Linked DNA regions of Homo sapiens: region 1 is reported to be linked to region 2. Evidence: microRNA targets listed by miRTarBase, many of them from high-throughput screens and not tested one by one. Region 2 holds a microRNA gene; the other region holds the end of a gene's coding sequence.

The links. The annotated mature microRNA hsa-miR-4324 reads CCCUGAGACCCUAACCUUAA and lies in region 2 at 8,601-8,620, opposite strand. An mRNA with a match to its seed (bases 2 to 7 or 8) in the 3' UTR can be bound and repressed. Matches are read on the target gene's strand: a 7mer-m8 pairs with bases 2 to 8, a 7mer-A1 pairs with bases 2 to 7 and ends in A, and an 8mer does both.
Region 1: miRTarBase lists TULP3 as a target of hsa-miR-4324. Seed matches in the 3' UTR shown: 7mer-m8 at 12,676-12,682.

The regions. Positions count from the first base shown.
Region 1 is chr12:2,938,673-2,953,494 of GRCh38, reverse strand. TULP3 (TUB like protein 3) reads right to left here. Exons shown (of 11, transcript NM_003324.5): 11 at 12,357-14,184. The coding sequence ends at 14,051. Among named protein-coding and RNA genes, the nearest start is that of TEAD4, 13 kb to the left of the region's middle.
Region 2 is chr19:49,300,207-49,315,925 of GRCh38, forward strand. MIR4324 (microRNA 4324) reads right to left here and starts at 8,662; the gene lies at 8,591-8,662. SLC6A16 (solute carrier family 6 member 16) reads right to left here. Exons shown (of 12, transcript NM_014037.3): 2 at 10,727-11,205; 3 at 10,147-10,304; 4 at 9,834-9,960; 5 at 9,445-9,620; 6 at 9,095-9,205; 7 at 8,670-8,911. The coding sequence starts at 11,141. RefSeq lists an enhancer at 1,348-1,427 and a silencer at 13,385-13,607.

The DNA of each region.
Region 1 (14,822 bases), not on the chromosome of region 2:
CTGCCCTCCAGCCTGGGCGACAGAGCGAGACTTCGTCTCAAAAAAAAAAAATGCACATTGTACACCATAAATATATACAATTTTTATTTGTTAACTATACCTCAATAAAGCTGGTGGTGGTAGCAAAGAGATTATATAGGATTAGAAGAACTCAATGAATAGGTTCTGAGTAAACGCCACCATGTAAGTCTTCTAGACTTCTTATCGATCCACTCATTATCCTACATATTTGTTTCAACTATTGCTGACTGCCAGTTTACAACTCTAGAAACTTTTTTCCCCAGTAAATCAAACCATTCCCACCAAACAAACAACTGACAGCTGGATTGAATGGCCTAATAGGAAACTGACAGAGTAAAGAGAGATTGTTTCCTAGCTTTTAGGTGAAAGGCAAATATTTTTCTTTTTTTTTTTATTTTTGAGACAGTGTCTCGCTCTGTTGCCCAGGCTGCAGTGCAGTGGTGCAATCAGGGCTCACGGCAGTCTTCACTCCCTGGGCTCAAGTGATTCTCCCACCCTAGCCTCCCAAGTAGCTGAGACTACAGGTGTGCACCACTTCACTTGACTAATTAAAAAAATTTTTCTTTGTAAAGACAAGATTGCCCTATATGCTCAAGCTGGTCTCAAACTCCTGGCCTCAAGCCATCTTCCTGCCTTGGACCTCCTAAGTGTTGGGATTACTGGTGTGAGCCACTGTGCCGGGCCACATCTTGCTTTGGAGATTTCCCCAAAGCTGCTCCCCATACCTTGGAAAGTATTATGCAATGACTCCTGCTGGTCAGCTGTGACTCAGGTGCTTTTTCTTTTTTAACCTCTCCATCCTATATTTATTTATTTATTTATGTTTTTTTTTTTTTTAGTAGAGATGGGGTTTTGCCATCTTGGCCAGGCTGGTCTTGAACTCCTGGCCTCAAGTGATCCGCCCACCTTGGCCTCCCAAAGTCCTAGGATTACAGGTGTGAGCCACTGCACCCGGCCCATCCTATACTTTTATTTACTTTTTTCCTTAAGAGAATGTTCACTTGACATCAGCTGAACTTCATTTTGTGCTTTGAAGGACAAAACAGACCATTTCCTGTTTTTTGTTTTGTTTCTTTTTTTTTCTTTTTTTTTTTTTGAGACGGAGTCTCGCTCTGTCACCCAGGCTGGAGTGCAGTGGCGCGATCTTGGCTGACTACAACCTCCACCTTCCGGGTTCAAGCGATTCTCCTGCCTCAGCCTCCCAAGTAGCTGGGATTACAGGCGCCCGCCACCACACCCAGCTAATTTTTTGTATTTTTAGTACAGACGGGTTTCACCATGTTAGCCAGGATGGTCTCGATCTCCTGACCTTGTGATCTGCCCGTCTCGGCCTCCCAAAGTGCTGGGATTCCAGGCGTAAGCCACCGCGTCCAGCCTGTTTTGTTTCTTTGAGCGAGAGCTCTGTCTCCCAGGCTGCAGTACAGTGGCGCGATCTCGGCTCACTGCAACCTCCACCTCCCGAGTTCAAGCGATTCCCCTGCCTCAGCCTCTCTAGTAGCTGGGATTACAGGCTCTCGCCACCATGCCCAGCTAATTTTTGTATTTTTAGTAGAGATGAGGTTTTGCCATGTTGGCCAGGCTGGTCTCAAAACTCCTGACCTCAGGTGATCCACCTGCCTTGGCCTCCCAAAGTTCTGGGATTACAGGCTCTTGCCATCACGCCCAGCTAAATTTTGTATTTTTAGTAGAGACGGGTTTCACCATGTTGGCCAGGATGGTCTCGATCTCTTGACCTCATGATCTGCCCACCTCGGCCTCCCAGAGTGCTGGGATTACAGGCGTGAGCCACTGCGCCTGGCCTTGTTTTGTTTTGAGACTGAGTCTCGCTCTGTCACCCAGGCTGGAGTGCAGTGGCAGGATCATGGTTCACTGCAGCCTGGACCTCCCGGGCTCAAGCTATCCTCTCACCTAGGCAAAACGGATCTTTATCAAAGGTTTTTTTTTTGTTTTTGTTTTTGTTTTCCCCAACTGTCTATAGAATAAAAGTAGTCAATAATTTGATAAGCATACTATTCATTCTATTATGTCTTCATGAAAGGCAAATGTAGGCCAGGCGGAATGGCTCACAACTGTAATCCCAACATTTTGGGAAGCTGCAGCAGGAGGATCACTTGAGGCGAGGAGTTCGAGACCAGCCCACGCAACATAGGGAGACTCCATCCCTACAAAAAATAAAAACAAAATTATCCGGGTGTCGTGGCATGTGCCTGTAGTCCCAGCTACTTGGGAGGCTGAGGTGGGAAAATTGCTTGAGTCTGGGAGGTCGAGGCTGCAGTGAGCCATGATTGTATCACTGCACTCCCACCTGGCAATAGAGCAAGACCCTGTCTCAAAAAAAAAAAAAAAAGAAATGTGAAAGAGAACAGACCCTAGGTCCACTGTCTAGGGAACAGTATATGCTGTGGGCTAAATTGTTTCCCTCCAAATTTGTGTGTTGAGGTCCAAACCCCTAGTACCTCAGAACGTGACTGTGTTGGAGATAAGGCCTTTAAAGAGGTGACTAAATTAGCAAGAGGTCATTAGGGTGGTCCATAATCTAGTGTAACTGGTGTCCTCATGAAAGAGATGAGGACACAGAACACTCAGACCAAGGGATGACCATGTGAGGACACAGGGGGAGAAAAGGAGAAAGGTCTCAGAAGAGACCACACCTGCCAGCACCAGCATCCTCCACTTCCAGCCTCCAGAATTGTAAGAAATGCATTTCTGTTGTCTGTGGATTTTGTTATGGCAGTCCAGGCTGACTAATTCAGTGTATTTATATTTCCAAACTGAAACAAACAACAGGTTTCCATTGCACAGAGGTGGAAGCCTTCTCTGCACAATTCTCAAGCAGGGTGAAGTTCCTACGGGGTCTTATCCTCAGCTATCCAGGAGCTTCCTGAAAAAAAGTCAAAAGGAAGGAAAGGCTTTCTCCAATCTCGCTCAGCTAAAATCTTCATCTTCAGTAATCCTGTTTGATAAAATATTCTGAAAATGAGAGTGCACTAAGTTGTGTGCGATGACCTTGTCGGGCCGTTAAACAGTCAGAGTTTAAATTCCAGCTTGGCCACCTACTAAGTGAGCCTCGGTTCCTCATCACTCATTTTTTCACTCCACATTTATTGAATGTGTGGAAAACAGAGGAGTCATGATGTCTGCCTCTCAGGCTGCTACGAGTGGAACACAGGAGCAGAATTGCTAAGAAGATAGTTAGCTTGGGAACCTGAAGTTGAGATTTCTGTAGACCAACTAACATTTTCCAACACAGCTTTCTGTGATGATGAAAATGTTCTCGGCCGGGCACAGTGGAGCATGCCTGTAATCCCAGCTACTTGGGTGGCTGAGGCACGAGAAGTCCTTAAACCCGGGAGGCAAAGGTTGAAGTGAGCTGAGATCACGTCACGGCACTCCAGCCTGGACAACAGAATGACACTGTGTCTCAAAACAACAACAAAACAGTTGGGCACCGTGGCTCATGCCTGTAATCCCGGCACATTGAGAGACTGAGGCAGGTGAATCACGTGAGGTCAGAGGTTCGAGACCAGCCTGGCCAACATGGCAAAAACCTGTCTCTACTAAAAATACAAAAATCACCCGGGCGTGGTGGTACACAGCTGTAATCCCAGTTACTCGGGAGGCTGAGGCAGGAGAATCGCTTGAACTGGGGAGCTGAAGGTTACAGTGAGCCAAGATCGCACCTCTGCACTCCAGCTTGGGCAACAGAGCGAGACTCCATCTCAAAAAAAAAAAAAAAGAGAGAAAGAAAAATGTTCTCCATCTGCACTGTCCACTGTGGTAGTCACTAGCCTGAGGACTTGAAATGTAGCTAGCCTGACTGAAGAACTGAATTTGAATGAATTTGAATGTAAATAGCCACATGTTGGCCAGCACAGCTGTGCACCATCTCAGCGGGAGATGCCCAGCAACAACTGGATAACACTTGCAGAGCTTGCAAAAAAATGTGGGACTGTGGGAGAAAGCAAGTGTAAACGTGTAAACTTATGGGAGTTACTAAGTGTGAAGAATGAGAAAGAAGAGGATTAAGATGACATTAGCCTGGTGTGGTGGCTAATGGGACACACCTGTTGTCCCAGCTACTTGGGAGGCTGAGGAGGAAGGATCGCTTCAACCCAGGAGGTTGAGGCTGCAGTGAGACATGATTGCACCATTGCACTCAGTCTGGTCAGCAAAACGAAACCATTCTCAAAAATTCATTGGCCTGGTGTGATAGCTCACACCTATAATCCCAGCACTTTGGGAGGCCAAGGAGGGTGGATTATTTGAGGTCAGGAGTTCAAGACCAGCCTGGCCAACATGGTGAAACCTCATCTCTACTAAAAATACAAAATTAGCCATGCGTGGTGGCACATGCCTGTAGTCCCAGCTACTCAGGGGACTGAGACAGGAGAATCGCTTGAACCTGGGAGGCAGAGGTTGTAGTGAGCCGAGATCACACCACTGCTCTCCATCCTGGGCCACAGAGTGAGACTCTGCCTCAAAAATAATAATAATAATAATAATAAATTATTTAATAGTAGTAATTTCATATGGTTTAAAACTTCTTTTTTAATGATTCCTCCTGGCCAGGCATGATGGTGGATGCCTAGAATCCCAGCACTTTGGGAAGCTGAGGTGGGAGGATCACTTGAGTCCAGGAGTTGGAAACCAGCCTAGGCAACATAGTGAGACCCCATCTCTACAACAACAACAAAAATTACTGGGGCATGGTAGCATGTGCCTCTGGTCCCATCTACACAGGAGGCTGAGGCAGGAGGATCACTGGGACCCAGGAGGTCAAGGCTGCAGTGAGTCGTGATTGTGCCACTGCACTCCACCCTGGGTGACAAAGTAAGACTGTCTCAAGAAAAAAAAAAAGAAAAGGATTCCTCCCACATCTGTCTTGCCTTCCTGTGCCCTGTCCTGCTCCTATAGTTAACCCACTTTTTAGTTTCCAGTTTTTCAGTGTTTATGCAAAAATAATAATGGGCTTGCAATTTCCCACCCTTTGTGCACAAAAGGAAGCATACTGTATACGTGGTTCTTTAGCTTACTTCTCACGGAATGGATCCTGCAGACATTTCCACATCAATCAATACAGTCTTCCTCATACTTGTTGATTCTCCACAGTATTCCATTGTGGGAAGTACCTTAGTGGGCTTTTTCCTCTTTTTTTTTTTTTTTTGAGGCAGAGTCTCTCTCTGTTGCCCAGACTAGAGTGCGGTGGTGTGATCATGGCTCACTGCAGTCTCGATCTCCCCAGCTCAAGTGATCCTCCCATTTCAGCCTCCTGAGTAGCTGGGACTACAGGCATGTGTCACCATACCTGGCTGATTTAAAAAAAAAGTGTTGTGTGGTTTTTTTTTGTTTGTTTATTTGTTTTTTTGTAGAAACAGGGTCTTGATATATTGCCCAGGCTGGTCTCAAAGTCCTGGGCTCAAGCAATACTCCTGCCTGGGTCTCCTAGAGTACTGGGATTAATTACAGGCATAAGCCAGCTGTGTCCAGCCTTACCTTAGTGTTTTTAACTAGTCCCCTGTAGATAGGCAATTTGTACATTAATCATGTGTGTGTGTGTTTGTTTTTTGTTTTTTTTGTTTTTTTGAGACAGGGTCTTGCTCTATCCCTAGACTGGAGTGCGGTGGTGCAATCCTAGCACACGTAAGCAATCCTCCTACTTCAGCCTCCCAAGTAGCTGGAAATACTACTGGTGTGTGCCACCACACCTGGCCCAAAGGTTACATTTATGTACCTCTATCTCTCTGAATAGCTGATATACGCCGGGCGCGGTGGCTCACGACTGTAATCCCAGCACTTTGGGAGGCTGAGGCAGGTGGATCACGAGGTCAGGAGATCGAGACCATCCTGGCTAACACGGTGAAACCCCGTCTCTGCTAAAAAAAATACAAAAAAAATTAGCCGGGCGTGGTGGCAGGCGCCTGTAGTCCCAGCTACTCAAGAGGCTGAGGCAGGAGAATGGCGTGAACCCGGGAGGCGGAGCTTGTAGTGAGCCGAGATTGCGCCATTGCCCTCCAGCCTGGGCGACAGAGCGAGACTCTGACTCAAAAAAAGAAAAAAGAAAAAAAAAATAGCTGATATAGAACAACATACGACTGACCAAAGGCAAAAATCAGGAAACCTTTTTCGAGGTCACTTTCTACTTTAGCCTGGTATGGTTTGTCCTAAGTATGCATCAGTACTTTGGAAATGGAACTTAGACCCACCTTTTTTGTTGCTGTTGTTGAGACAGTCTCACTCTGTCACCCAGGCTGGAGTGCAGTGGTGCAATCTTGGCTCACTACAACCTCCGCCTCCCGGGTTCAAGTGATTCTTGTGCCTCAGCCTCCTGAGTAGCTGGGATTACAGGCGTGCGCCACCATATCTGGCTAATTTTTGTATTTTTAGTAGAGATGGGGTTTCACCATTTTGGCCAGGCTACTCTCAAACTCCTGACCTCAAGTGATCTGCCCGCCTCGGCCTCCCAAAGTGCTGGGATTACAGGTGTGAGCCACCGCGCCCACACCCGGCCTAGACACACTTTAAAAATGCTGCTCTACTTCCTAGCCCTCTTCTGCCTGTCACCCTCCTTTCTCCTCAAACCATTCTTCCTTCCTAATCTTCCTACTCCCAAACTACGGAAGAAAGAGAACTGCTGGATAATTATTCTTTTTTTTTTTTTTTTTTGAGACAGAGTCTCGCTCTGTTGCCCAGGCTGGAGTGCAGTGGCGCGATCTTGGCTCACTGCAAGCTCCGCCTCCTGGGTTCAGGCCATTCTCCTGCCTCAGCCTCCCGAGTAGCTGGGACTACAGGCACCCGCCACCACACCTGGCTAATTTTTTGTATTTTTTAGTAGAGACGGGCTTTCACCGTGTTAGCCAGGATGATCTCGATCTCCTGACCTCGTGATCCGCCCGCCTCGGCCTCCCAAAGTGCTGGGATTACAGGCGTGAGCCACCGCGCCCGGCCTTGCATAATTATTCTTGAAACACTTAAGATTCATGACAAGGGGCAGAATCTAGGTAGAAAGTGCTTAACTAGATGTTAAACCCTGTGGCTTGAGAGCCCCAATGTTAAACCAAAGAGGTATAGTAAAGGCTGGTGATAGACCAGGAAAAAGCCTGCCCCCACCTAAGCCCCCAGCTTTACCCCGCTTTGGTCATGGCCAAAGCCGTGTTGGGGCTCAGGCCTGACGGACCAAAAGACAAGGCCCATCTATAAAGAATCTTGGAGGCCCATTTTGTATTTGAAATACTTCAAAAATTTCCAACAACATCAGGGCTAATATTTGTACAGGCAGTTACTTCAAGTAAAAACAAGAGAGATGGGTACAAAGTGAGGAAAGGGAGGTAGGATCAGGGCTGGGCTAGCACTGGTGTGTGGAGTAACCTGATTAAACCGTGCTGTGCTTCTGTCCTCTCCTATTGTCTCTGAAAAACCATCTAAATTTGCTTTATAAACATGTATAAGCCATTCTCTATAAGTGCGTGGCTAAGAAGATAATTGTTCTGTTAAGTTTTTTCTTAGAGACAGGGTTTCACTCTTTTGCCCAGCTGGAGTGCAGTGGTACAATCTTGGCTCACTGCAGCCTCCTGGGCTCAAGCCATCCTCCCACCTCAGCCTCCCGAGTAGCTGGGACTACAGGCTCGTGCCACAGTGCTTGGCTAATTTATTTTTGTAGAGATGGGGTCTCCCTATGTTGCCCAGGCTGGTCTGGAACTTCTGGGCTCCAGCAATCCTCCCACCTTAGCCTTCCAAAGTGCTGAGATTACAGGTGCGAGCCACCATTCGAGCTCATTGTTTTATTTTTAAAGAACATTAATAAAAATTATGGCCAGGCACAATGGCTCACACCTGTAACCCCAGCACTTTGGGAGGCTGAGGTGAGAGGATTGCTTGAGCCCAGGAGTTCAAGACCAGCCTGGGCAACATGATGAAACCCCATCTCTACAGAATACAAAAAAAAAAAAAAATTAGCTGGGCGTGGTGGCTCACGCCTGTATGCCTGTATCCCAGCAGCTCCGGAGGCTGAAATGGAAGGATCACTTGAGCCTGGGAAGGTCAAGACTGCAGTGAGATCATGCCACTGCACTCCAGCCTGGGTAACAGAGTGAGACCCTGCCTCAAAGTAAAAAAAGATAATATAGATATCTGCCACTATACTTAGTGTTTATTCTGTGCCGGCCAGATCCTGGGCATTTTACCTAGAATACCTTAACTCGTTTCTTTCTTTTTTTTTTTTTTTTTTTTTTTTTTTTGAGACAGAGTCTTGCTCTGTTGCCCAGGCCGGACTGCAGTGGCGCCATCTCGGCTCACTGCAAGCTCCGCCTCCCGGGTTCACGCCATTCTCCTGCCTCAGTCTCCCGAGTAGCTGGGACTACAGGCGCCCACCACCGTGCCCAGCTAATTTTTTGTATTTTCAGTAGAGACGGGGTTTCACCGTGTTAGCCAGGATGGTCTCGATCTCCTGACCTCGTCATCCTCCCGCCTCGGCGTGAGCCACCGCGCCTGGCACCTTAACTAGTTTCTAAACTCCAGAAATATTAGTGTTCTCAGGCTTTCAGAAGAGAGCCATGGTCTAACACGAGGTGCTTGGTAACTGCATGGTCATGTGGTCGGCTTGCTGTTTTCGCCTGGTGACTTCCTCACCTGTGCGGGGTCTGCCCGTTTAACGCACCTGCAACATGCATTCCTGGACAGTGGGTGGCGCCATGGAACCATCTGCCGTTCTCACTGCACCCCTTCATTTGTGGCAGCCTTAGCTTTTAGTGGATGAGGGGAGTCTATTGGTTGATAAAAAAGACTGTGAGACTTTTAAAGCATATCCATCGACAGTGATAACGAGGAGACGTAAGCAGGAAAGGAGGCAAAATGATCCACTATGCCAGTGGTCAGGAAACGTGTCTCAGGAGGTGGCACAGAAACTGCCAAGTCCTTGGCATGCCCCTGGCTGGGGCCTGCGTGGGCCAGGCTGAGAGAGCTGTGGACTGAAGAGAAGCAGGTGTTAGACGTGCAGACAGTTCCCGGGCAGGAGCTGGAGGCCGAGGAAAAACGCAGCTTGCAACATGCTGGAGTTCAGGAGCAAGCTGTGTGTGTGTCTTAAGAATTGCTTGTAAGAGTTACTATAACCAAATCGACAAATGTCAACTTGGCTAATAAATCGTACTTGGTAGAATAAAGAGGACAGTTCTCAGTGCACGATCCTGTTTCTTCCACAATTCCGGTCTCCTCTCCATGGTGCCTTCGCTGAGGCAATCTGTGCTTTCCCTGAACTCTGTGTCACCTCTCAGGCTAGCCGTCCTTAGCCATGAACAGAGCTAATGAACATGAGCCATGAACATGAAGCTGTCCAGGGGTAACCAGTGAGTTCAGCTCAAAACAGGGGAATGCCAGAGTGTTGTCAGCATGAGTGGGGAGAAACATGTAATTCAAGAATGTAGCCGGGCGTGGTGGCTCACGCCTGTAATCCCAGCACTTTGGGAGGCCGAGGCGGGCGGATCATGAGGTCAGGAGATCGAAACCATCCTGGCTAACACGGTGAAACCCCGTCTCTACTAAAAATACAAAAAATTAGCCAGGCGTGGTGGCAGGCGCCTGTAGTCCCAGCTACTCGGGAAGCTGAAGCAGGAGAGTGGCGTAAACCCGGGAGGCGGAGCTTGCAGTGAGCCGAGATCCCACTACCGCACTCCAGCCTGGGCAACAGAGCAAGACTCTGTCTCAAAAAAAAAAAAAAAAGAAAAAGAAAAAAAAAGAATGTAAAAGGGCACGTAGTTCAAAGTCTCTCAATCTATAAAGGAGGCACATGGCAAATCATTGGCAGAAATAGGGTCAGAACCCAGGAAGATTTTGCCTTAGTCGAACCATCACTTTATTTCTGCACTTACAATGCTGATCTCAAGGAAATGAATTGATGCTAGTTCATTTCTTCTATGATCTATTAAACTGATCAAAAAGAGCCTTTTGCAGGCCTGTTTTTAGACTTGTAATTGACACTTGCTGAAATCTTTCATGTCAATGCCCACCAGTATGTCCCTGATCACTAGTGTACAAAACTGTGTCACAAAGAATCTATTTGGGCCAGGCACGGTGGCTCATGCCTGTAATCCCAACACTCTGGGAGGCCAAGGGGAGAGGATCGCTTGAGCCCAGGAGTTCAATACCAATCTGGGCAACATGGTGAAACCCTGTCTCTATCAAAAATTAAAAAATTAGTTGGGGGTGGTGGATGCCTGTAGTCCCAGCTACTCAGGAGACTGAGGTGGGAGGATGGTTTGAGCCCAGGAGGCAGAGGTTGCAGTGAGCCAAGATCACACCACTGCACTCCAGCCTGGGCAACAGAGCCAGACCCTGTCTCAAAAAAAAAAAAAAAAACAGAAAAACTGGCCACCCATGCACCTTAGCCAAAAAGAATCATATGAAAAAGAAAATACATGTTGTGCATGTGGAAGACTAAAAAAATAAAAAAGGAAAAATCAAGTTGTAAGAATCGACTCCAGCTCTTGTCCTGATTTTTAGGCTCTTCTTGCTTCTTTCCATGTGTTCATCACTGTGATGCTGATAAGAGCCAGAAAGCCTAGGAAAGCTTTGTGGACACTTTTTTTTTTTTTGAGACAGAGTCGCATTCAGGCTGGAGTGCAGTGGCACAATCTTGGCTCACTGCAAACTCTGCCTTCCCAGTCCAAGTGATTCTCCTGCCTCAGCCTCCCAAGCAACTGAGATTACAGGCACCCGCCACCACACCCAGGTAATTTTTGTATTTTTAGTAGAGACAGGGTTTTGCCATGTTGGCCAGACTGGTCTGGAACTCCTGACCTCAAATGATCCTCCCATCTCGGCCTCCCAAAGTGCTGGGCATAAGTCACCACACCCAGCATTTTTTTTCAACTTCTGAACATAGGGCAGCTTAAAAATGTGAAGGCCGGGCATGGTATTTCGTGCCTGTAATTCTAGCACTTTGTAAGGCCGAGGTGGGAGGCTCACTTCAGCCCAGGAGTTCGAGCCTGAAAAACACAGTGAAGCCCTGTCTGTACTTTAATACAAAAAATTAGCCAGTCTTGGTGGCACATGCCTATAGTTCCAGCTACTCAGGAGGCTGAGGTAGGAGGATCCCTTGAGCTCAGGAAGTTGAGGCTGTGGTAAGCCAAGATCACACTACTGCACTGCAGCCTGGACAACAGGAGACCCTGTCTCAAAAAAAAAAAAGGAGGGGGGGGTGCCGAGCGCAGTGGCTTACGCCTGTAGTCCCACCTACTCGGGAGGCTGAGGCAGGAGAGTTGCTTGAACCCAGGAGGCAGAGGTTGCAGTAAGCCAATATCACCCCACTCCACTCCAGCCTGGCAACAGAGCCAGACTCCGTCTCAAAAAAAAAAAAAAAAAAAAAAAAAAAAGGCCGGGTGCAGTGGCTCATGCCTGTAATCCTGGCACTTTTGGAGGCCAAGGCGAGACCAGCGTGGCCAACATGGTGAAACCTCTTCTCCACTTAAAATACAAAAATTAGCTGGGTGTAGTAGCGCACGCCTGTAGTCCCAGCTTCTCAGGAGGCTGAGGCAGGAGAATTGCTGAAACCTGGGAGGCAGAGGTTGCAGTGAGCCGAGGTCATGCCCACTGCACTCCAGCCTGGGTGATAAAGCAAGACTTCGTCTCAAAAAACAAACAAAACGTTAACATTCAGAGGCAAGCGATGGGGTCTATGAGATAGTTCATTTGTGTTGCTGCTGAACCAGTAAACAATGCCAACAAGAACAAACCTGGGAAGCGGACCTGGGCAGGCATGCAAAGAATGTACACTCTACCCTCTGTGGCCTTGCTAAGCTCAGCTCTCGGTCCCGTCCTCTGTCCAGATGCCCCTGGCTATCATGTGTATAGTGTGTCTAGGTAGCCTCCGGAACACAGCCTTCTTAGTCTGCAGATTCCTGCTCTACATCAGGATGAGAAGTTTGTTAGTAATCACCTGGTTTTACAGAACTGATGTGTTACCAAAACATTTTTTTTTCTTTTTTTGAGGCGAGGGTCTCACTCTGTGGCCCAGGGTGGCGTGCAATGGTGTGATCTCTGCTCACTGCAACCTCAGCCTCCCAGGTTCAAGTGATTCTCATGCCTCAGCCTCCTGAGTAGCTGGGATTACAGACATGCACCACCACACCTAGCTAATTTTGGTATTTTTAGTAGAGATAGGGTTTTGCCGTGTTGGCCAGGCTGGTCTCCAACTCCTGGCCTCAGGTGATCCGCCTGCCACAACCTCCCAAAGTGCTGGGATTATAGGCGTGAGCCACTGCACGTGGCCCAAGATGACAATTATGATTATATAACATGACAGTAGGAACTTCCTGAGGCATAGGACTTGCAAAGGCAGTGACACATTTTTATATAAATTAACTTTTATTTCTGTAACATATAAAAGGTATAAATAGGACTTATGTAAAAACCAATCACCTGCACACACAAATTATGTGAAATTAGTTTATATATCTCTTTAAACCAGAGGGAGGAAGAAGCAGGATGAGGTCCACCTGGCCCACCATAAGTCCTTCCCCACATGCTGTCGTGTATTAATAGCTTCTGTGGCCAACCAGGGTTATCTGCCAGGCAGTGCCTCAGGATGGGGTGGGGGGTGGTGGTGGTGACGAGGTGTGAGGCTTCTGGGCATGGCTGTGAGGGAGGCACTTGGTGGGATACATGCCTGAGATGGAAACAGTCTCGTCCTCACCCAGCAGGTGGGACTTGTCGGTGGGGGACAAGCCAAGGGTCCCGCAGCTGCCAGTTGGCCCTCCTTCACATGCTTATCTGATGTGGTGCAGGAACAACAGGCGGAGGTGAGAGGTCAGTCCACAGAAGGGAGGTCTGAGGGAGCAGCCGCCACGGGTGTCCCACCCAACGCTGGCAAACAGTTCTGTGCACAAGGGATGCAGCTGAATGGTGCTGACGGTGGAGCTCACAGAGCTCCTGCATTCTCAAGGTTTGGATACATTCTGGGAAGGGTGAACTGGTGTAAGAGTCACATAATACGTGGAGGGGTGTAATAATCAAAAAAACGTAGCAAAACACCTTCTGTGCCTGAGCCAGGGTTGAGGGAGCCGAGAAGAAAGTCCACAGCTCTGCCACACGGGCCAGCAGTGCTCATGTCTGCTGGCTGATCCTCCCCAAAGCCTCTCCTGCCACCTTTTTTTTTTTTTTTTTAACTAAACTAAATGGTCAATACTGCCATCTCTCTTGATAATGACAAAGTGTTTGCACAGGATGCCTACAGGTGTGTGTGTCGCTCCTCACTAATGGATCCGTAGTCATATAGCTGTGAGAGGCACTCCTGGGTTGAAAATGAAGGCAATTATCACATTACTGTCAGTCCTGACTGAGTCACCTCTAGAGTTTATGCTTTCAGCCTTAATTGAAATGAAGACAATTATATAAAATTCTCACATAATTGATCACAAATGTGATCACAGCCACTCTTGACTAAGATTGGTGCCGGCCAATCTGCTGTGAGGGAATGAAGAGAGGAGAGGAACTGCGATGTCAGTCCCTGATTCTACTGCAAGTTTCCAAGCACATGAAATCCCATTCTAGCTTTGGAGACCCCAATGTGACAAGAATCTCCCTGTGCTTTAAATCATCTCTCACCCATGCTAAGCTGTGATCCCTCACCAAGTCTATGAAACCTGGAAAAGGAGTGAGAGTGCGCGGGGTGTGTGTGTGTTTTATATATTCAGGGGTCGTTCCAAAAGGGGCAAACTATTGCTCTTCGTGTGTGTGTTTTATATATTCAGGGGTCGTTCCAAAAGGGGCAAACTATTGCTCTTCGTGTGTGTTTTATATATTCAGGGGTCGTTCCAAAAGGGGCAAACTATTGCTCTTCGTGTGTGTGTTTTATATATTCAGGGGTCGTTCCAAAAGGGGCAAACTATTGCTCTTTGTGTGTGTGTTTTATATATTCAGAGATCATTCCAAAAGGGGCAAACTATTGCTCTTTAAGTCCTGGGGCAGGGAGGGGAAGGGGAGGCCACTGTCTGCTCCTGAAAGCTCTGTGGGGAGAAGGGCTCCCTGCCTGACTGTTCTCTCATTCACACGCCAGCTTACTGTCAAAGCTAGAAAGACCGATGCCAAAGGCCTGTACTGCACAAAGTGGGTAGTTGTAATCCAGTGTGAACACGTCATCTGCCACACGTCCAAACTGCATGACTATATAATCAGCTAGAAACAGAAAGAAATCAACATGTTAGAATATAATGTGGTTGCACTCAGGGAAATCTTTTTCTTTTTCTTCCTTTTCTTAGATGGGGTTTTGCTCTGTCGCCCTGGCTGGAGCCTAGTGGAATGACCACAGCTCACTGCAGCCTTGACCTCCCGTCCCAGGCTCAAGTGATCCTCCCACCTCAGCCTCCTGAGTAGCTGGGACTACAGGCAAGCGCCACCACGCCTGGCTAATATTTTACTTTTTGTGAAGATAGGGTCTCACTATGTTGCTCAAGCTGGTCTCAAACACCTAGGCTCAAGTGATTCTCCTGCCTCGGCCTCCCAAAGTGCTGGGATCCTATTTATGATACAGAAAGAATCCTCCAAATAGGCCAGTTAATCACCAGGTTTCTGTAGAATAGAGAGCAGCTTGCTGGGAATGTCATAAACTCCGCAGGCTAGAGCTGCCAGGAACCTTTATTGGGGTCATTTGCCTTTGTTTCCCAAACAACCTACTCTATGACTTCTCTGATTTTTTATTTTTTTCTGAGACAGGTTCTTGCTGTCACCCAGGCTGGAGAGCAGTGATGCAATCTCAGCTCACTGCAGCCTCGACCTCCTGGCTCAAGTGATGCTCCCACCTCAGCCTCCCGGGT
Region 2 (15,719 bases):
GCATGCTTGTAATCCCAGCTACTCGAGAGGCTGAGGCAGGAGAATCACTTGAACCCAGGAGGCAAAGGATGCAGTGAGCTGAGATTGCACCACTGCTCTCCAGCCTGGGTGACAAAGTAAGACTCCGTCTCAAAACAAAACAAAAACATGATATAACATTCAAATGTAAGTTAGGAATGCATGTAAATGGATATAAAGAGTTTTGGAGCCCTTATCTTGAAAGACAGTGAAGTACTGATTACCTTTAGACATCGATAAATTAAGAATGCATATTGTGAATTCTGGGGAAATCACTAAATCACTGAAAGAACAGAAAACAGAGTGGATAACTTCCAGACTAGTGGAGGAAAAAAAAAATGGAATGATAAATAACTACTAAGTCAATCCAAAAGAAGGCAAGAAAAGAGAAAAAACAAAATACAGACCAGGAGAAACAAATAGCAAAGTAAGATGGGAGACAGAGCCAATTATTTCCTATCATGATGGCAGAGAAAGGGATCCAGCCTCCCTTTCTCTATAAAGAGCAACAATTTGGCAACTATCCTTGAACAACAATTACTCTGGGCCGGGCGCGGTGGCTCATGCCTGTAATCCCAGCACTTTGGGAGGTTGAGGCGGGAGGATCACTTGAGGTCAGGAGTTCGAGACCAGCCTGGCCAACGTGGGGAAACCCCGTCTCTACAAAAAATACAAAAATTAGCTGGGCATGGTGGCACGTTCCTGTAATCCCATCTACTTGGGAGGCTGAGACAGGAGAATTGCTTGATTCCGGGAGGCGGAAGTTGCGTGAGCCGAGATCAGGCCACTGCACTCCAGCCTGGAAGTCAGCGAGACTCCATCTCAAAAATAAATAAATAAATAAAATAAAATAAAAATTACTCTGGAAGAATTGAGAAGTCGGCTTCAGCTGACTTTTAGTGGGAGAAAGAACCCTAGAAAAACCCATACAGAAAGGGTGGAAAGAACAATTCCATTTTGCCCACATCACCCCATCCCCCGAGCCAGCACTGCTCAGCATGGAGAGGGAATTCCCTGGCTCGCATAACCCTCTTTCAGGGATAATGAGAGCAGGCTATACCACCAGCTTCCCTAGTGTTTTGGGACACTGCCCAACCAGCTTCAGTTTCACTCCATTCACATTTCCGTGGGGACTGGCATTGCCGAGACTTACGGAGATAATGGGGAACCAAGAAGTGGGACAGGCTGTCAGTATCAGCCATGCTGGTGGGAGCCACAGCGCCCCCTAGTGGCCTGCTCAACACGGGTCTCTAGCACACTTCTGTACTGAGGACCTCAACAGCACTCCTGGCCACTGTGCAGCTCCCCACAGTTTTCACCACCAAGGACACCTTGGTGTTACCAATGGCTGATGCCAGCACCATTTTCTGCAGAGGAACCAAGCAGCTTTCACAGCTGAGGAAACCAACTGCCAGCACTGCAGCAGCAAAAGCCCTGTAGTTTTTTCCACCTTCACAGTCTCCAGGTGCCTGGCCCTCTAATTTCTCCTTCCTCTGTCCCTGAAACCACCTAAGCTGTTCAATACCATGGTCACCCAGACCAGACCCAGGGACTCACCCCAGTGGCCATCGCATTCTCTGGGTGCCTAAGCCAATACCCCTCCTCTATGGAGTCACCCCAGCTGCTGCCTCTACAAGTGCTCTGAGCCAAGGACCCAGCACAGCTACCATGCATGTGCCTGCACACAGCCATGCCTCCCCATCCCCAGGTTCTAACTCCAGCATCACGTTTGCACCCTCAGCTAGGCCCCGCGGCTGCATGTGCACACACGCCTCCAGCTCAGCCCTGCAACTGCCCACGTACATGCAGATGGACTGACCTCTGTGGCCAGACTGCAGCAGGCCCCTGCAGTTAGGCACAAGCTGTCAGGCCCCACTGCCACATGCATGCCCTTAGTCAACCCCAGCCCCTGCCTCTGACTCCACCCCTTGCCACCATTAATGAGCCTGCAACTAGCCTCTGCTGCCATGCTTGTGCCTACAGCCAGCCTCTGCAGCAGAGTGTGTGCACACCACTGACCCCAGCCTCCACTGCTGCGAGTCCTGGCCCCTAGATGCTAGGCAAGAGGCACAGCTGAGGTCCCAGAAAACTCTGTGGGAGGTTCACAGCCACTGTGGACCTCCCACAGCTGTTGCCACCAAGGACCATGCAGGTATCAACATCACAGCCCCCAGCTGCCTGTGCTAACAAGACTCTGTGTCCCTCCAACCTGGACCCACCACACGCACCCCCACCCACAGTTGGCACTCTGTGCCACTGGACCCAGTGCCAGAGAGCACCACTCTTCTCCCCAAAAAAAGCATTTGAAGTTAATGCTTCTTCAAATGCTTTTCTCAAGACTATAAAAATCATGAAGAATTGGAGAATCATGATAACACCAAAGGAAAACAATAAACTTCCATTAGCTGACTCCAAAGAATAGCAGATCCACTAATTGCCTGACAAAGAATTCACAATAATGGTTCTAAAGAATCTCAGTCAATTATAAAAGAACAGAGAAAACAATTTAACAAAATCAGGAAAACAATAGAACAACGAAAGAAGAGGCTAAACAAAGGCACTGAAAATATGAAAAAGAACCAAACAAACATTTTTGAGCTGAAGAATAACAATAAACAAAAAATACAATAGATGGCTTCAACAGCTGACTAGAAAAGCAGAAGAAAGAATAAGCAAATTCAAAGACATCATTTTAAATCATCCAGTCAGAGGAGAAAAAGAAAAAGAAATGAAGATAACCAAAGAAAGTCTACAATATCTATGGGAGGCCATCAAGAGAACACTTACATAACAAGATTTACAGAGGAGAAGAGAAAAGGACAAAGTTTATCTTTAAAAATAGCTGAATACTTCCCTAATCTGGAGAAAGATACAAACATCCAGGTACAAGAAGTTCAGAGGTCTCTAATAAAATTCAACCCAAAGAAGAGTTCATTGAGACATATTATAAACAAATTATTTAAAACTGAAGACAAAGAATTCTGAAAGCAGAAAGAGAAAAGCATATCACATATAAGGGAGCCCCAGTACAAGTATCGACACATTTCTCAACAGAAATCTTGCAGTCCAGGAGAGAGTAAGATGATATATTCAAAGTGCTGAAAAAAAATCTGACAACCAAGAATACTTTAAAAAGTATGTAGGCCGGGCAGGGTGGCTCATGCCTGTAATACCAGCACTTTGGGAAGCCAAGGCAGGCGGATCATGAGGCCAGGAGTTCAAGACCAGCCTGGCCAGTATAGGGTTTAGTAGAAACCCTGTCTCTACTAAGAATACAAAAATTGGCTGGGCATGGTGGCGCCCACCTGTAGTCCCAGCTACTTGGGAGGCTGAGGCAGGAGGATTGTTTGAACCCGGGAGGCAGAGGTTGCAGTGAGCTGAGATCACGCCACTGCACTCCAGCCTGAGTGACAGTGTGAGACTGTCTCAAAAAAAAAAAAAGAAAAAAGAAAAAAGAAAAAAAGCCACACCATTAGAACTGGTCTCATCTAACGCCCTTCAGTCATTTGATTTATACAAGTGATAAGGTTTGGGGCACAAAACTATTATCATATTACTATTAATTTTACTTTATATTTGCCCTTTTTAAAACTTTGTATCTGTCACTTGTTAAATTTTTACAGAAGTACAACTCCTAACAAAATAATGCTGGCCCAGCCAAACACTTTGAGATGATAACAAAAGACTATGGAACAGACAAAATTGAACTTCATAATGGACCTCAGATAGACTTAGCCTAAGAGATACCCCCTTCAAATGTCCCTTGTTGCTCAAATGTGGCTACAAGAGTTTGACACTGACTCCAAGTCACCCATCATTCCCCTCAATGTGACATGAGACCAGCAACTGGGACAGGCCCATCATGACATTGAGGGACAGGAAAACCCAAATATGAATGATTGATCAGTGATGCTTTTGGAGAAAGATCTTGATTAAAAGAGGAAATGTGAACGTTATCAGAATAAAATGGAGTCACTAATGTTAAGAAAGCCCTAGCAAATTGAGTCAAGGAAGGCCATAAAGAGAGGGTTCTCACACTTGTATGTCTGATTAGAAAAACAACTACAAAAACTATAACCACGCATAAAGGCCACTGCAACCTTACACACACAAAATATTCCTGCAGAAACATCTGCCCAACAAACGCCTATCCAATCTTGGACTGGTGTCACCCTTGTTATCGATCTCTGTAGTCAAGGAAAATTATTTCAAAACAATTATGTTATCCTCCTCATTTTTTTCCTTTAAAAACCTTTGTTGGCTGGGCGTGGTGGCTCAAGCCTGTAATCTCAGCACTTCGGGAGGCTGAGGTGGGCGGATCACCTGAGGTCGAAAGTTCGAGACCAGCCTGACCAACATGGAGAAACCCCGTCTCTACTAAAAATACAAAATTAGCCAGGCGTGGTGGCACATGCCTGTAATCCCAGCTACTCGGGAGGCTAAGGCAGGAGAATCGCTTGAACCTGGGATGTTCAATGCACTCCACCAGGTGAGAGAAAAGAATTTTAATATATACAACTGGAAAATGACTACATATCCAGAACATATAAAGAACTCCATAGAAAAAGATAGATCATCCAATATTTTTTTTAAAATGGGCAAAAATGAACTTGACCACACATTTTGCTTTAAACTATGACAATACAAGTATTTGCACGAGTGAGGTAATGAGAACTTCCATACACACATTTCATATACATACAATTATAAATTGGCACAGATACTATGGAAAGTAATTTGGCATCATCTGTGAAGTTGTAGATATATGTGGTAGATTGAATAAATACAGCCACAATATTTTGGAGCTCCTCCAATTAAGAGGTAAAGTCTATTTTTCACCTTTGGAATCTGGGGTAGCTTTTTTACTTCCTTCAACCAAGAAATGTAGCAGCAATGGAAGCAGTCCTATACTTCGCTTCAAGACACTTTGCTGAGTCTGCCTTTGTGCTCTGTGAGCTACCATGTGAAGAAGACCAAACTAGCCCCATGGAGAGGCCTCATGGAAGAGAGCAGCCCTTGCTGGCCAGCCAACTGACTACAAACAGGAGTGAACCCAGCCACCACCACTTAAAGAAGAGCAGTGCCGGCTGGGTGTGGTGGCTCACGCCTGTAATCCCAGCACTTTGGGAGGCCAAGGTGGGTGGATCACTTGAGGTCAGGAGTTTGAAACCATCCTGGTGAACATGGTGAAACCCCGTCTCTACTAAAAATACAAAAATCAGCTGGGTGTGGTGGTGGGTGCCTGTAATCCCAGCTACTCGGGAAGGTGAGGCGGGAGAATCGCTTGAACCCGGGAGGCGGAGGTTGCAGTGAGCCGAGATTGCACCATTACGCTCCAGCCTGGGTGACAAAAGCAAAGATCTGTCTCAAAAAAAAAAAAAAAAAAGAAGAAGAAGAGCAGTGAGCAGCGCCGTCCCTGCTGGGCTCAGCCCCCAGCCAACCCTCCAGCTAAATGCAGCCATGTCAGTGAACCCATACAAGCCCAGCAGAAGAGCTTTCCAGCCAACCCGCAGAATCATGAGATAAATCATTGTTGTTTTAATCCATTTACTTCCAGAGTGATTTGTTACCCAAGAATAGACAACTATGCCCCAACAATCTAACTCATATCCCAGAAAAATGTGCACATATGTAGTACATCAGGAACATGCATAAGAATGTTTGCAGCAACATTGTTTTAATAGCATAAAACTGGAAAGACTCCAAATGTTATCAATAGTTGAATGGATTTTTAAAAACTGTGGTATATTCATATACTGAAACATTATACAGCATTTTAAAAGCACAGATTAGGCCTGGCGTGGTGGCTCACGTCTGTAATCCCAGCACTTTGGGAGGCCGAGGCGGGCGGATCACGAGGTCAGAAGATCGAGACCGTCCTGGCTAACACGGTGAAACCCTGTCTCTGCTAAAAATACAAAAAATTAGCCAGGCATGGTCGTGGGCACCTGTAATCCCAGCTACTTGGGAGGCTGAGGCAAGAGAATGGTGTGAACCCAGGAGGCAGAGGTTGCAGTGAGCCGAGATCACACCACTGCACTCCAGCCTGGGCAACAGAGCGAGAGTCTGTCTCAAAAAAAAAAAGAAAAAGAAAGAGCACAGATTAAAGTTATACACAATATGGATAAATATTGCAAACATGTTGGATGAGAAAAAGAAAGCACAAAAGTAAGCAAAGAGAATGTATATATGAGGGAACAAATAACTAAACATATTGCTTTATATAAGTGGACAAATTATATTGCTTAGCTATGCATACATAGATGATAGAATATAAAGAAAAACATTAATCACTATCCTTAGTTCTTTGTTTTTTTTTTTTCTTTTTTTTTTTTTTGAGAGAGAGTCTCACTCTGTTGCCCAGGTGGAATGCAGTGGCACAATCTCAGCTCACTGCAGCCTCCACCTCCCAGGTTCAAGCAATTCTCCTGCTTTGGCCTCCTGAGTAGCTGGGACTACAGGTGTGTGCCACCACGCCCGGCTAATTTTTGTATTTGTTAGTAGAGATGGGGTTTCACCATATTGGCCAGGCTGGTCTCAAACTCCTGACCTCGTGATCCATCTGCCTCAGCCTCCCAAAGTGCTGGGATTATAGGCATGAGCCACCGCACCCGGCTTGTTTTTCTTTACATTTGATCATCTATGTATGCGTATCTACTAAGCAATATAGTAACCACTATCCTGACTTTTATGATGGTTACCTCTGGGAGGCAGTAAAGAGATTATGATTAGAAAAAGATACACAGAGAGCATCTAGGGTTATTCTAGTTCTTAATACAGGTGATGTTTACTTCACGGTTCGTTACACAGTGCATTGTTTTATACACTTTTTTTTTTTTTTTGTTAGAGGAAGGGTCTCGCCCAGCTGATTTCAAACTCCTGGGTTCAAGCAATCCTCCCACCTCAGCCTCCCTAAGAGCTGGCATTACAGGCGTGAGCCACTGCTCCCGGCCTTGTTTTATGCATTTTTCCATATGTAGGTAATAGCTCATAATAAAAGGTTTTTTTGAAAATACACAAAAAAACTACCATTACACTCCCACCAGACTGGAAACAATTTAAAAGTCCAACCAAGTTTAATCAAGTGTTGTGCAAAAAGTAGAACAAATGGAAGTCTCACACATCCCTGATGGGAGGGCAATGCATTACGCCACTTTGAAAACCAGACAATATATGATAAAATTGAAGGGGAGCACACCCTACTCAGCAATTCCTTTCCTAACTATATGCTGTCAAGAACTCTTGCACACGCACACATGTATATTCCCAGGCATCTTCTAGAAGAAAATGGTGGTTATTTGTGAGGGTTAGGGTTACTAGGAGAGGTCGGGCGCGGTGGCTCACGCCTGTAATCCCAGCTCTTTGGGAGGCAGAGGCAGGAGGATGGCTTGAGCCCAGGAGTTCAAGACCTGCCTGAGCAATATAGTGGGACCCTGTTCTCAAAAATTTAAATTAAAAAAAAAAAATCTGCTGGGAGAGAGAGGAAGAGGAGGAGGAAGCAAAAAAAAAGAAAAAGAAAAAAAAGAAAAAGAAAAAAAAAAGATTACTGGGAGAAATTCAACTCAGGGTTGCCTCCTCTGGAAGGCCCCATCTGACTAGTCCAGACAGAATTAATGGCTCTGTCTCCTGTCCTCACCCATCACTTCAGTTACCAGTTAGCACAAGTTTTTGGCTGTCTCATTCTCCTTTCCTTCCCCCTCCAAAATTGAAAACTTAATGAAACAAGGACTGTGGTCTGATTCACCTGTCCAAGTCTCTGTTGTATAGAAAGAACACTTCCTAAATGTCTGTCTGATGGATGTTTTTGGAATTAATGCCTAAAAATAAGAAAAATAAGAAACAGGGGTGATCAGACAATCAAGGTTCTAGTACAGAGAATCCTTTTGGAGTTTCTGCTAGATTGACAGAAATCCCCAATTCAGGAGTTAACAGTTAAGAATGGGGGCCTTAGGGCGCGGTGGCTCACGCCTGTAATCGCAGCACTTTGGGAGGCTGAGGCGGGCGGATTATGAGGTCGGGAGATCGAGACCATCCTGGCTAACATGGTGAAACCCTGTCTTTACTAAAAATACAAAAAAATTAGCCGGGCCTGGTGATGGGCACCTGTAGTCCCAGCTACTCAGGAGGCTGAGGCAGGAGAATGGCTTGAACCCAGGAGGCAGAGCTTGCAGTGAGCCAAGTTCGCGCCACTGCACTCCAGCCTGGGTGAAAGAGCGAGACTCCATCTCAAAAAATAAAAATAAAATAAAATAATGGGGGCCTTCTACTTCTCCATTTTTCCAAGGATGGCCTTGGAAGTCTCTGTGTGGTATGGTCTTGGATGGTATTTTGTTGTGTATCTGGGATTAGAGAAGCCTTCAATGTTTGCAATTTTTAGTACATCCCTGTTAGCATATCCACTCTGAGGTGGATAGCTGGCAATCTCTGAGTTTGAAGATTTATTTCTAGGGTGACAAAAGGCTCTGAGAAGGATAATATATGATAGGAGATTCTATTGTCTCCATTTTTAGCTATGGGGAAGGTAGAGGGCTTGCAAGTGCACCCAAGGTTGAAATGTGTGAACATGGGTCTTTGCAGCACCTTTAAGGTTAGGGTCTCAGGGTTTTAAAGTTCCCTGGAGCTGAGACCCTTAACAAAGGGGCCGGCCTTACCTCTCACAGCAGCGATGTGTGATGACTGTCGCCCAGAAGCCCAGGACACAGAAGTTGAAAGATGTGAAAACCAACAAAGTGAGCAGGTTTATCACAGACACGAGAAAGGCATCACTGAGACAGTTGTTGGACTGGGGCATGTAGGAGGCTAAGGAGGCAACGGAGCCAAGGCCTATGCCTGTGTTAGACAAAACTTGACCCCCTGCTAGAGACCACACACTCATATTGTACACATCCGATATCTAAAAGAGAGAAGACAAGCATAAGGGGGTTGTAAAAGAAGAAGCAGAGGACAACTATAATAGAAATGTTGCAGGGAGGAGAGAGGGAGATACAAAAGTAAAGAATGGGGAAAGGAAGCTCTAAGAATAGGCAGCTGTGGTGCCCTACAAGGCCTGACGGGGGAGTGAGGAGATAGATTTCACCTTGGCAACCACCAACTGTTGAAGGCCAAATTTTGCCCCTTCCAGGAGTAGAGTCCGGATGAAGAAACCGACAATGATGAAACAGGGGAGCAGTACCAAGACATAGATTACCTGAATCGAGAGTGGGACATATCAGCAACCGTGTACCAGTAGGGGTCAACCAACAGTTAGGAGGGATCAAAAGTTCTGAGTCAGAAATGAGTAGGAGTTAGAAGAAAGCCTTCAGCAAGAGTCAGGGGCTAGGGGAGTAAAAGCCAAAGGAGTAAGAGATTAGGAGATCAACAAGTAACAAATTGAGGTAAGGGCTAAAGCATCTGAGAATTTCAAGGAATCCAATACTGGTGGCTCACCTTCCCAGTGGACTTGAGCCCATTGATCATGAAAGCACCAACAAGACACCAGCAAAGAAAGAAGGGCAGGACCAGACTGTAGACTGGTGACCCGCCATCCTCGATTCTGTCTGAGGCCTTCAAGGCCTGCTGGTACCAGAAGTATATGGAGGGTGTTGTCCGTTCACATTCAGGATCTGGGGGGACCTGGCTTTAGACATGCCTGCTAGACAAGGTACCCCCTCTTCTTCCTTATCCCCTCCCCCACCTCCCTTTTCTCTTTCCCTCTCCCATTTCTTTTTCCTTCTTCTTCCTCTTCCTTGTCCCTCCCCACTCTCTCCTATTCCAAATTCCCTTCTACTTCTACTTCTCCATTTTTCCCTTCTCCTCTTCTTTCACTTCCTCCTCACCAAAGCCACTAGAGTTCATCGTTAAGGGACATTTCTCCCATGGAACGGGAAACTGGAAGGACTGGCTCATGTAGAAGATGATCCAGGAATTGACCACATTGAAGTACAGGCCGAGGATGAAGCACACCTGGGGGCCAAGGAGGATATGGCTGGGGAGGAAGAGCAGGGACAGGAAAAGGGAGGGGATTTGACAGAGGATTGGGGAACCAAAGGGATCTGACCCATGGAGGTATTCACAGGGCGCATTTCAGGAGGAGGGTTGGGATGGCGGTGGGGTGTAAAAGTCAGGCCTGGGCAGCCATGGGCTCCTCACCATGAAGCTAGAATACCCCACACCACCAATCCAGGGGGCAATGATCTTCCATACACCCATGCCACCCTGACGCATGCTCTGACCAGCTGCCATCTCCAGGAAGAGAAGAGGAACCCCGACCAGGAACAGCATGAAGATGTAGATGGCAGCGAAACTGCCTGTGAAGAAGATTCAGAAGGGACTCTGAGAACCATGTGGCCTTTCAGTGCCTGGACTCCAGGAGCCCAGGAAAACATTCTCCCTACCAGCGACCTCTTCCAGGGCCACAGGCATCAGGGCTCACCCATGTCTACATCCCTCACGGTCCCAAGTGTCCAGTCCTCTGGCCCCCAAATCCTGGAAGACCCAAGTACCTAGTTTCCAGCCCATCTTGGGCCCAGGCCTCCAGCTTTGCCATCCCCATGTTCAGATACCCTGAACCTCTCATGATCCTAAGTGTCCAGGGACCTGGCTCCTATCCTGCTCAGAGCACCAGGTCTTTAGTCTCTACATATCTCAGAAACATTCATGGTTAAAGCCTGGACAGGACTCTGTCCTGATTGCCCCTTGTGGACCCAGGTTTCCTGGTCCCCAGACTTACAGCCTCCACTGTTAAGCCACAGGTAGGCAAAGCGCCAGAGACAAGATGGCTTCATAGAGAAGCCCACCTGAGCCAGAATATACTCAGTTTTGCTGGACCAGAACGGACGGGCAAGGAGGACCTCACTCTCTTTCTTCTCTGTCATCTGCACCTTCTCATGCGTGGGTTTCTGGTTCAGGGCTGAGGCAGTTAACGCCTCCAATACAGAAATTTGCTTGGGCTGACTGGTCCTGGCCTGAGCCTCTGCAACCCGGGCTGCTGAAACTTGGGCCTCTGAGGTCCAAGATGTTGCAGACCGGGTCAATGAACCCTTGTCTTCCCACGTTTGACTTCCTGGGACACTGTCAGAAATCACTGTGCCAGTCCATGAGGTGTTTGCCAGCAAGGATGTCGAAGGCTGGGCCTCTGTCTTCATCTCACACAGACTCTCTGGGGCAGCTCCCGCTTCTGCAAGGGAGGGTTCATCTTCCTGAGGAGACCTGAAGGACACCAAAATCTGTAGATTTTAGATTTTAGAGTCAAGTAACTACTGAGTTACAAAACAATCCTCAACATCTCCTTAAAGCAAATTTTATACCACCACTGACATTTAAAGCACAAAAAAATCTCTTGCATAAGTTTCACTTCTTAGAAATGTTTTCACGTGGTGGCTCACGCTGTAATCCCAGCACTTTGGGAGGCCGAGGAAGATGGATCACCTGAGGTCAGGAGTTCGAGACCAGCCCGGCCAACATGGTGAAACCCCGTCTCTACTAAAAATACAAAAATTAGCTGTGTATAGTGGCAGGCACCTGTAATCCCAGCTACTCGGGAGGCTGAGGCAGGAGAATCGCTTGAACCCAGGAGGCGTAGGTTGCAGTGAGCCGAGATCAGGCCACTGCACTCCAGCTTGGGAGACAGAGTAAGGCTCCATCTCAAAAAAAAAAGAAAAAAAAAAAAGAAATGTTTTCTTGTACAGGATAGGGATAGAGACAGACATACCCAAGAGTCAGGAATCCCTGAAATCAAAGGATTTCTTTTTTTTTTTTCCAGCTACTGGGTTCAAGCGATTCTCCTGACTCAGCCTCCCAAGTAGCTGGGATTACAGGCGCCCACTACCACACCTGACTAATTTTTGTATTTTTAGTAGAGCCAGGTTGGTCTTGAACTCCTGACCTCAAGTGATCCGCCCACCTCAGCCTCCCAAAGTGCTGGAATTACAGGTGTGAGCCACTGCACCCAGCCTGAAATAAAAGGATTTCTAAGAACACTGAAGTACTATTTACAGAGGGCTTCTGAATTTAAAAACAAAACTAAACTAAACTAAACTAATTTAATACTAAATCTGCCTTGTAACCTTAGAAAAGTTACTTTACCTTTCTGAGCTTTCTAATCTGTAAAACACTCAGATCTCTGCTCAAATATAGCCTCACCAGAGATGCCTTCCCTGTCCACCTATCTAAAATAGCAGCTACCTACCCACAACTCTCTTTACTTCATGGCATTTCTCATCTCCTGACTTTATTATCTATTGATTGTTAATTTATTCATTGTCCATCTCTGCCTACTGCTCTATCTCCAGCAAAAGGATGGTGTTCTACCTCACATCTAGGGCTATTCTCCTCCTTATTCTCCAAGTTCCCGCCACTCTGAACTTCTGTTGGCTCTTCAAATACAAGAGAAAAGGCAAGGAGTGTGCTGAAAAAAAAAAAGTTACATGAAAGAGAGGAAGAGAGAGGGGAAACTGGAGTTTTCTTTCAGTGGGGGAAGGAGCATGCTTTCCAAAAGCAGAGGCAGTAGATGGGCTTCAAGGCAGCACTGGCACATTTGGGTGACATGGATAACTGCTTGTGAGACACAGCTTCCAAAGAGCTCTTTGTTACACAAGAAAATGCTTATAATTCAATTACAGGTTAAAAACATAAGACTAAGATACAAATTTCTATCTTTAGTTCTATCTCTACTACATTTAAAAATGCAATGAAAGGCTGAAAGGAAATACATCAATATACAGAAGATGATCAGGCCAGGCGCAGTGGCTCACGCCTGTAATCTGAGCTACTCAGGAGGCTGAGGCAGGAGGATCGTTTGAACACAGGAGGCGGAGGTTGCAATGAGCCGAGATCGCACGACTGCACTCCAGCCTGGGCAACCCTGTCTCAAAAAAAAAAAAAAAAAAAAAAAGACGATGATGGCTACAAATATGTTTATATCCTTATCCCTGCTTTTACATTAAATTTTTTAAAATCTTGTATTACTTTTTTTTCAGACACAGGTTCTCACTCTGTCACCCAGGCTGGAATGCAGTGGCATGATCCACAGTTCACTGCAGCCTTGAACTCCTGGGTTCAAAGGATCCTCTCACCTTATCCTCCAAAGTACCTAGGACTATAGGCATGTGCCACCATACTCAGCTAATTTTTAAAAGTTTTTTTCAAGATGGGAGTCTCACTATGATGCTCAGGCTGGCCTCGAACTCCTGTGCTCAAGTGAGTCTCCGGTCTCAGCCTCCAGAGTAGGTGGCATTACAGGCACAAGCCACCATTCCCCACTCACCTGTATTACTTTAATAATCAATAAAAATACGGCCAGGCATGGTGATTCATGCCTGTAATCCCAGTACTTTGGGAGGCCAAGGCAGGCGGATCACTTGAGGTCAGGAGTTTGAGACCAGCCTGGCCAACATGGCAAAACCCTATCTCTACTAAAAATGCAAAAAAAAAAAAAAAAAAAAAATAGCCGGACATGGTGGCAGGCACCTGTAATCCTAGTTACTAGGGAGGCTGACTTAGGAGAATCACTTGAATCGGGAGGCAGAGGTTACAGTAAGCCAAGATCATACCACTGTACTCCAGCCTAGGTGACAGAGTAAGACTCTGTCTCAAAAAAATAATAATAATCAGCCGGGCACAGTGGCTCACGCCTGTAATCCCAACACTTTGGGAGGCCGAGGTGGGTGGATCACCTGAGGTCAGGAGATCGAGACCATCCTGGCTAACACGGTGAAACCCCATCTCTACTAAAAGTACAAAAAATTAGCCAGGCACAGTGGCGGGCGCCTGTAGTCCCAGCTACTCAGGAGGCTGAAGCAGGAGAATGGCGTGAACCTGGGAAGCGGAGTTTGCAGTGAGCTGAGATCACGCCACTACACTCCAGCCTGGGCAACAGAGTGAGACTCCGTCTCAAAAAAAAAAAAATCATAATCATAATCATAATCATAATCAAGAAAAAATATGTATTGATAAGTGAAAATAAAAAGATCATAATGGACAAAGAAATCCAATTGAAGAAGCTCTCATCAGCGAAATCTGGACAAATCAGAACATCAAAATAAAGAATAGTAACAGATGAGAACCAACAGACTAAAACAAGAATCCATGAATCCACAGGGATACAACTCAGGAAAAGGAAAACCTCTTCCTTATAGTAGAATACAAACTAATAAATGTACAAGGAACGATGAATTAGAAGGTCACTGCTTATCATAAACTAATCAAGTTGTACACATGAAATATGTACAGTTTTTTACTTGTCAATCATCCCTCAATAAATATGTCTTTTTAACAAATCATTGTTTGGAAATTACCAGAGTAATAACTGACACAAGCAAGAATCATCAATGGTTGCTAAAACAAGATGATGAAAATTTGATGGGGACAGGATAATTGCATAGTATTACTGTATCTCCCCACAAGATATTCCCCCCAAAAAAACCCAAGAAACTAGTATCTTTAGAGTATTACACACTACCTAAACCAATAATAGTCACCTGATATCATATAACTCCTGATACAATGCATTAAGAGCACAACATCATTTCTGTGGGATTCCTGCCAAAAACATGTAACAAAACTCCAATCGTGAGGAAACACCAGAAAACAAATCTAAATTGAAGTACATTCTGTAAAATAGCTGGCCTGTGCTCAGTAAAAATGTCACAGTCAATAAAGACAAGGAAAGATGGAAGTGTTGTAAGTCTGAAATTATGTCAAAATTTTGTTAAATTTTTTAAACTTCCAAGCACCTGCCACTCCTACAATTCACCATCAAAACAAAAGGAAGTTTCTTCTAAGATAGCCACATGAACACCAATCTCCAAACTTACCCACAATCTCCCCCTACCCAACAAAAAAAAAAACCAATGATTTTAAAATATTACAAATATGGGGATATCTGCATCATTTCTGAAAAATAGGTTCCATCCTCATGTCAAAAACAGAGAAACTTCTGCTACATAAACAAGAAACAGGACCAAACTGTAATCACTGAGGAGTCAGTTCACATCTCTTTTTCCTGATGAAGTGGTTCAGTGTTTCAGGAAGTAAGTAAATACTTTCCCAGCAACTTGTGGGAAATAAAAACAATCACTTGCCAAAGACCTTCTGCTCCAGTGAACCAACAGCTTCCAGAAGCTGTATGCCAGAGAATGCAACAGCAGGTGGGCCACTCCTCTGTTATTGGATTTATTGGAGTTATTGGTGGGTTGATGGGCGTCTCCCTGAGACAAATGATGCTTCCATAACATTAAGAGAGAAGCAGAAAATCATGCAGGGAAGAAAAGGCTGAAGAAAAAATTAGGTACAAAAATCCAGCCTTTGGGGCTGGTCATGGTGGCTCATGCCTGTAATCCCAGCCCTTTGGGAGGCTGAGGCAGGAGATGTTTTATGTAAGCTTCGTGGTAACTACAAAGCAAAAAACTCAGTAGAGATGATTCAAAGCATACCACTAGAGAAAATCAATATAATTAGTCACATTGATATAATAAAGAAGAAAAATATTATCATCTCAAGAGATATAGGAAAAACATACAATACAATGATGATTTACGGAGAAAAACTTTTAGCAAACCAGGAATAATTTCCCTAACCTGATAAATGGTGTCTCTCAAAAAAAAAAGATTATACTTAATAGTGAACATATGCTTAAACATAGGCACATATTTAATAATGAAGTGAAGAAAGCTTGCCTTTTGAAATCAAGAACAATCAATGAAACCAGCTATCAGCACTTCCTT